Homo sapiens: one gene and its partner. The protein of the gene in region 1 purifies or fractionates together with the protein of each later gene. This does not show direct contact. Each region holds a gene or a part of one and is shown in the gene's direction. Other genes may lie near its edges.

Region 1 (3,750 bases):
TGTGTGGAGCTTATATTTCAGTTCTACATTTTGGAACTCTCTGCTACTTCATAAGAAGCCAGTTAAATGTCAAAATCCTGAAAATGATCTGTTGAAATCCTGAGCACAGGCGCCAGACATATGCTACAAGTGTTATTTAAAAACTAACTAGAGGCAGTGTTACATATGATCATAGCTCTCCATCAGGTTCTTTTAAAACAACACACTAGCGAGAAAGCTCTTTTTATCCGCCTCCATCTGCTGTTGGTGGTGATCAGCATACTGTGGGCATTGTGGTATCATCCGAGATTAGGCTGTGAAATAGGAAGTGGGGTTACAGGCAGATCCGCAAGTGTATGCAAACTGTTGAGTTCTATCTCTTGCTAAAACCAAGGGTGCCCAATTCAGGTTTGGAGAGTAGGGAAAGTAAGGTTATCAGCGCATTCCTATCAGGGTCGTTTTCTTTTTTGCACTGCTCTTGTTCTGGTTTTATAAGGAGAACACAAGCAGAGTCTATGGAAAATAGTTGCCAAAGCATACAGGAAATACTCCTTATACTGAACAAATGCAAGAAAACAGAACGGGTTAGAAACCGAGGGAGACAAAAAGGCAGTGGGTGCCAAGGACTGTGAAAAGCAAATGCAACGATAGAGACAGCACAGTCTCAGGCTTATTTTTCAAAAATTCTCATTGTAAGCCTCTTTCCTTTCTAAATGGAGACTATCTTAACACTTTAGCTCGCATTAGACTTAATTTAATAAGAAGGTTGTAAACCACAGCTGTTAAAGTCTTGCCACTGCCCTACCGGATTCTTCGCATCCTGTAAGGCACAATTCGGAGTTCAGCTGGTTGATAAGGAAGCCAGGCATTGTGGCATCTTCAAGTACGAAGTGAAGCACAGGAAAGAGCCAACTCCGGAGAGTAGCTCTTCATTGCTTGAATCATACATATGCTTGTTTTTTCCCCCCTCTCCTTTCTGGTCTCTATTATTAACAAATATTTCATCCTGGCACAACAGGCACAATCAACAACTGGTTAAGGAATGAGTAGTTACTGAAGTCCCAACGCCTCTCAGTTATTTTTCTCACACTCACTGTATTCTAGACCTAGAAGCCAGCTCTCATTTGAAAGCTGAGGTTCAGAAGGGTGAAGTGCCAATAAATGGCAGAAGCCAGGTCTCTTTCCTGATTCCCATTCCAGCTGAGCTCCTCCTGCCACTGGATCACCATCAAAGACCTGCCAAAGCTGTTACTTCCGGGTTCGGTGCTGCCACAGTGCAAACGGGGATGACTTTGGACAATGACCCTGTGGCCCCCGCAGGGCTCGCACCCTCAGGCCCGTGGAAGGCTAAATGCTGACGGACTGGTTCTGCCCTGGAGCGGCTCTCCGCGTCCCAGGGGTCTCCTCAGTCCCGAGTGTGCACAGCGGGTCCTGCCACGTACCCTGGCGACCCCAGCAATGGACTCAGTGCCCCGGGTCCCTTTCCGTCTCCCTCAGGCGGCGTGCAGCACTTTTTCGGGTGTCCCAGTGGAATTTCCGGGCCCGTGAACGACTGACCCACGCCCGGCCGCAGCTCCAGGGGCCGACGAAGGGAGCGCTAGGGCCCACGGCAGGGCCGTCTTTGCCCGGGCTCCATTCCTGCCACCCTGGCGCTATGTCCGCCCTTCCCTGGTTTTCCCTACGAGCGTTTTTTTAACGCTTCCCACTCCTTGTTTACAAAGTGCTGAGCCCCCTTGACCGCAGGCTCCCGCGCCGGCCCGAGTTCCCACACCGTACGCTGGCTGCCCCCTATTCGGATCCCCGCCGGGCGCCGCACCCCCTAGCCACCCCAGACCGTCCCGGAGACCCGCGCCCGCCCAGCTCGCCCGGGCCATCACGTGAGCCTCCCGCCCCGCCCCCGCGCGTCACGTGAGCCCCGCCCCCGCGCCGGCGCGCTCCGACGTGCCCTGTAACTTACCCTCCCTCAGAGGCCAGCCTGCGGGGACGGGCCGGCCGCGGCCGTAGCCGTGTGAACGCTCTTCGGGCTCGCGTCGTCGACCCGCAGCCGCGGGGCGGACTAAGAAGGGAGCCGCCTGCTGCGAGGCCGCCGGGCTCCCGGTGAGGTGCAGGGCGCGGGTCCTGGCGGACGGAGGGCAGGTTGGCGAGGCGCTGCACAAAGGCGCGCCGGGGCCGGGCTGTGCCCGCCGAGGGCGGTGGAGTCGGGGGGAGGCGTGTGCGGGAGGCGCGGCGGCGGCGGCGGCGGCGCCGCGGAGGTGCGCGCAAAGGGAGGTCGGGCGCGCAGCGAGGGGCTCTGGGCGCGGGGGTTAGGCGCCGAGGGGGAGGGGGCCGGCGCAGCCTATTGGCTGACGTGGGCGAGAGGGTTTAAATGGCCCGAAGTTGTGGCTTCTCTGCCCCCTGGGTTTCCTGACTTCCTGTGTGAGGGCAGCGCCCGCCCGCCCCGCCCCCAGGGAGGAGAGTGTGAGGGTGCGCGGGTGTGTGTGTGAGTGCGGGAGAGTGCGCGCGTGTGTGCACAAGGCGGGTGTGTGCGTGTCTATGTGCAAAAGGCGGGTGTGTGCGCGCGCGTGTGTCTGCAAAAGGCGGGTGTGTGTGTGTGTGTGTGTGTGTGCGCAAAAGGCCGGCCCGGCCCCTCCCGCGCCCTGGGCCCACTCCCTAATCGCGGTGGGGCTTGCAGGCCTCCACCCACCCGGGGAGCCCACCCGGGGAATCCACCTGGGGCGTCCCTCGAGGACTGTTGACCTTAAACCGGACACTTTCTTCTTTGCGGTCTTTCCCGGTGCCCTGCCCCTGCTGGATGGACGTGCATTCGCTCCCCTCCAGCTTATCTGGGCGGAATCTCCTCAAAGTCCTTGAATTGAAAAATCCTCTTTACCAGCGTGCAGCCCGCCTCCCATCTCAGGGGAGCTGGTTGTCTTCTCAGAACGGCTGTCCTTTACGCGTTGCTATCTTAAGTGACTGCAGACCCTTTGAGAAGAAATGGCCACACGGTCTTCGTTAGAGAAAAAGGCACGCCCTTCAGCTTTCGAGGCGTGTGATGTTTTCCTTTTGACTGCAGCTGCAGTTTTGTAAATGTATTTTCAAAGGCTAAAGCACGACGTTGAAAGTACACCTTTATCGAAAGTTTTAATGTCATCCCAAGTGGAGTGTTTGTTGTGGATAGAGGCTTTTAGCACTCTAATAACACGATTGGTTGTGGCTGGCTTTTGGGTTAATCATGACATTGAGAAGTAGATTTTATCGACTATTTAGGCATGCGTTCCTAAAGGGAGGTGGTGGAGGAAGGAAGGCTCACTCGGGTTCTGATTCAGGTTCTGCCACCCGACTTCTAGAGGTTAGACCTTGGGAGACTCCGGGTGTTTCAATGGAAGTGTTAAAAATAAGTATCTAGCCCCTAGCCACGCCTCTTTCATACTTAAAAGTCGGGAACGATGGCCTAGATGTGTGTGTACTTGCCCATATCGCCTTTTCTTTATCTGTAGGAGGGTGTTTTACAGAATCGGTCATCTTCCTCTACCTCCTCTGGTCTGAATAGGCATTTTGGCTATTTTTATTTTGCCTTGGAAACGTTTCAGAGCTGGGTTTTGAGAGCCCAAAGCAGGCAGTGAAAGCGTGACCCCCACCCATGCCACCTGACGAGCCAGACCGTCTGCGCACATATGTGCGACCCCTGGTTGCATGCGGCTCCACTGTTCTAAAAGTGTTTCTCTGTGGGGGAAAAAGAAACCCCAGAAGTGTAATATAATGTGTGTATGTATATTTATGCGCCAATATTTG
Region 2 (3,750 bases), on another chromosome or scaffold:
CTTGGAGAATACGGCTAAACATTAATAAAAAGAAAAGCTAATGGAGTTAGAATTACTTAGAAAATAAGGTTGGTTGAGAATGTGCCATCGTTCTGGGAGTTTGAATGGGTGATATGAGAACGTTAGGGAATTTGTCTAGGCCTCTAGAATTGGATCGCTTCTCCCTCGGGGAGATAGCTCACACACAGCTGTGCTGCAGGGAGGAGAGAGGGAGATTCTATTACCTGTGGCCGCTTTTATTTTAGAAGCTTTTGGTGTTAGTATCCTGTTCACCAGCTGAACTGAGGTAGTTTTGTGAGACTTGACAGTGACTATTTTGTTGCAGAATTGACTAAGTTTTGCTCTTTGAGAACTAGATGTGTAGTCAAAGTATCTGGCATCTATGGAGTGCTTCCAGTTTGGAAGGGGGATGCAAGCTTCCCTGGGGAGGACAGGTTGAACAGGACATAGCTTCTGCCTTTGAGGGTCTGAGAATCTTGTAGAGGCATGGATGTGAGTGTAGCACAAGGCAGCGTGCAATGTGTTGATATTACTAGGAGAGTGGTACCAGGAGAACAGGCTGCAGAGGAGCTGGATTCAGAAGAAAAGCAAGACAGACTGAGAAAGTGTGGCTTAGCCGCGGTATGGAGGATGGATGGTAGCACAGATAGGCTGCAGGGCCCCTAATTTGAGTTCCTGCACAAAAACGACCATAATATCAACATTGTACCAAAGCCAAGTGATCTCAGGGAGAAAAATAAAAGATGCCTTCCCTGGCGAGCACATCAAGGTTTCAGTCGCTTGGCTGTGTCCTTGGGAATTTTCTTGAGTCCCCACTCCCAGGAGCCACATCAGACCCCACTGACCGTCCAACACAAATTCCTCTAGATGGAAGGGATGGATGATGACCCCGAAGACCGCATGTCCTACTTAACCGCCATGGGCGCGGACTATCTGAGTTGCGACAGCCGCCTCATCAGTGACTTTGAAGACACGGACGGTGAAGGAGGCGCCTACACTGACAATGAGCTGGATGAGCCAGCCGAGGAGCCGCTGGTGTCGTCCATCACCCGCTCCTCGGAGCCGGTGCAGCACGAGGAGGTGAGGCGAGGCAGGCCACGGGCAGGAACAGGAGAGCCTGGTGTTTTCCTTGCACTCTCGTGGACAGCTGTGTGTTCAGGGTGCTGTGGAAGGCATTCCTAAGGGTTGGAGCAGATGACTTCCAGGGAGTCTCTCGCTTTGAGTCCACGCTGGCATGGTTGCAGTCTGTGGGAAAGTGGGGCAGGCAGGTGGACTTCAGAAGAGCTTGAGGGGTCAGCACTCCGCACACCCATGCCCTCAGGTGCGATGGATAAACAGAATGGCTTTAGGTGCCGTCTGTCCAAATTACCAGCGGAACCTTCCTTCCCATGCAGTATTGTTGTATGTACTTGTAACCTTTGATTAGGTTTCTCTCTGTACTCTTAGATGTCCTTGCTTTTCTTCCCCATCCTGCCTTTAACCTTTCTAATCTTGCCAAAGCTCTTGAGTGTTTCCCCATCAGTTTCCTTCTCTCTTATATTTCAGTTTTTTAATTGAGTTCATGATCAAACCTTCATCTGATCACATCACATGTACTGTGCATCCACTGTGATTAGATAGCTTATGGGATCCTTGAAATCACATTGACAGGCACTGTAAAGTCACAGCCAAGTTAGCAATTATTAGTTGCACCTCAGAGAATGTTGGAATAATGATCTTTGAAGATGGGATTGTTCATATATTTGGATAATTATTGCTGTGGATTTCTCTCTAGCATTTTAGCTCATTCCAGTAAATGATTTTTTTCTTTATGAAATAGAACTACCAAAAAAAAAAAAAAAAAAAAGTTCAACAACAACAAACTGAAGGGGGAGAAAAATACACCATTACCACAGCAACAAATTAGTTTATGCTAGACAACTTGTAAAGAATAAATTAACTTCCAAATGCCTATAGACATGGATATTAGTGACACAAGAGATTTTAGACTTTTGGAGGGTTCTTAAAAAATTGTGCTTTAAAGGAAGAGACTCTACATTGGATGCAGCCAGTTTTTAAAAATGTGTCTGAAGCATTTGGTGATGGTTTCTGCCTGTTCAGTAAAGAAGCACCGGCTCAGAACCTCAACTTCTGGACTTACTCAAGTTTGCAGAACTCCTCCAAAGCAGTCGAGTGCTCTGTTCTCTCTGCTTGGATGTTCTTGTTGTGAATGAACCTTTATGTCTTGTAGAGCATAAGGAAACCCAGCCCAGAGCCACGAGCTCAGATGAGGAGGGCTGCTAGCAGCGATCAACTTAGGGACAATAGCCCGCCCCCAGCATTCAAGCCAGAGCCGCCCAAGGTACGTGGCTGGGAAGCCCAGGATGGGAAGGAAGAGGAAGCAGATGCCTCTGAAGCCTCCTGGACGGCCAGGGAGGAGCATGCACACTGAGATGGTGTTTAATTACGGTTCTGACTCACTGTGTTCTCTATTAGAGCCTATCTTTTGGCCTGTTGGGTGAACTCCCAAATTAGGGAAGGGCAAAAAGGAAGGAAAGGCAATATTAGGAGAGCATATGATTTTAGGACTGTTAGTGTTTATTTAATTTACTCTTCTTGTTAAAAAAAGATTGTAAAGAAAAAGATTGAAAAATACTGTACTGTATACCCAGAATCACCAATCGCAGAACGTGTTTTTCTTTTGCTGTCCAGCTAAAGTTTTCTGCCCAGTCTGATTTAGATGCACCAGATAATTCTTACTGGTGATGTGCTAAAGAGAATAATCATCACCACTGCTTACAATGCCTCTCATTAAGAGAGCTGCTTATTTGTTTAATAAATCATTATCCAGAGCAGAATCAATATAAAGACACAAGGGCTTATATCAAAAGATTATTTACCTTTAGTCAGAATCAGAGCTGTGACTCTATGTTTTTCCTTATACCAGAATAAAACCTATTTAACTCAATAATTTATTATTTATTATTACTATTTTTTGAGACAGAGTCTCACTCTGTTGCCCAGGCTGGAGTGCAGTGGTGCAATCTCGGCTCACTGCAACCTCCACCTCCTGGGTTCAAGTGATTCTCCTGCCTCAGCCTCCCGAGTAGCTGGGACTTAGAGGTGTGCACCACTATATTCAGCTAATTTTTGTATTTTTAGTAGAGATGGGGTTTCGACATGTTGGCCAGGCTGGTCTCGAACTCCTGGCCTCAGGTGATCCACCCACTTCGGCCTCCCACAGTGCTGGGATTACAGGCGTGAGCCACTGCGCCCAGCCTAACTCAATAATTTAGATGAGAAGAAAGCCATAATTGATTGTGTGAGCCATCAGAAGTAGTAAATGTGATAGGTACTAAGTAATAATAAGTGACCTCATAAAATACATCAGCGAAAATTTGCAAGCCGGGCAAGACTGGAAGTGTGAAGGAAAAGTGGCTGTTAGCGTGAAGCAGTGCTCTCCTCGCTCCCCACCCCAGTCTCATTCCTCAGCTGGACATGGGTCTCACCTGGGCCGGCTCATGTACCCTCAGTGCAGCAGTGACCTCAGAAGCCCACTCTTCGAGTCCCAAAGCCTGAATTGTTCTGAGATCTTCTCCAAGATGCTGATCTCCTCTAGAACAAAATTATTCCAGGTCTGATCTTACCTCCAGCAATCACAGCCCTCCCAGCACTTTCCCTATTCCTTTTTGGCTTCCTGACATTCCTAATAGACTAGTATAGGAAGGGAGGTAGGGCTCAGGAAGCCTGGCCAGTGGCTGTTTGCCCTGC

The links. The genes of interacting proteins can lie anywhere in the genome.
Region 2: the proteins of ARHGAP12 (region 1) and TJP2 purify together in Homo sapiens (co-immunoprecipitation; 3 studies listed by BioGRID and IntAct, with this or other methods). This does not show direct contact.

Annotation. Positions count from the first base shown.
Region 1 is NC_000010.11:31,927,009-31,930,758, reverse strand, and holds the start of ARHGAP12 (rho GTPase-activating protein 12), read left to right. Parts: upstream 1-1,927; 5' UTR 1,928-2,076; exon of another isoform or gene 2,077-2,097; intron 2,098-2,715; exon of another isoform or gene 2,716-3,750. UniProt on the Homo sapiens protein: GTPase activator for the Rho-type GTPases by converting them to an inactive GDP-bound state.
Region 2 is NC_000009.12:69,247,145-69,250,894, forward strand, and holds part of TJP2 (tight junction protein 2), read left to right. Parts: intron 1-867; coding exon 868-1,080; intron 1,081-2,230; coding exon 2,231-2,341; intron 2,342-3,750. UniProt on the Homo sapiens protein: Plays a role in tight junctions and adherens junctions. Acts as a positive regulator of RANKL-induced osteoclast differentiation, potentially via mediating downstream transcriptional activity.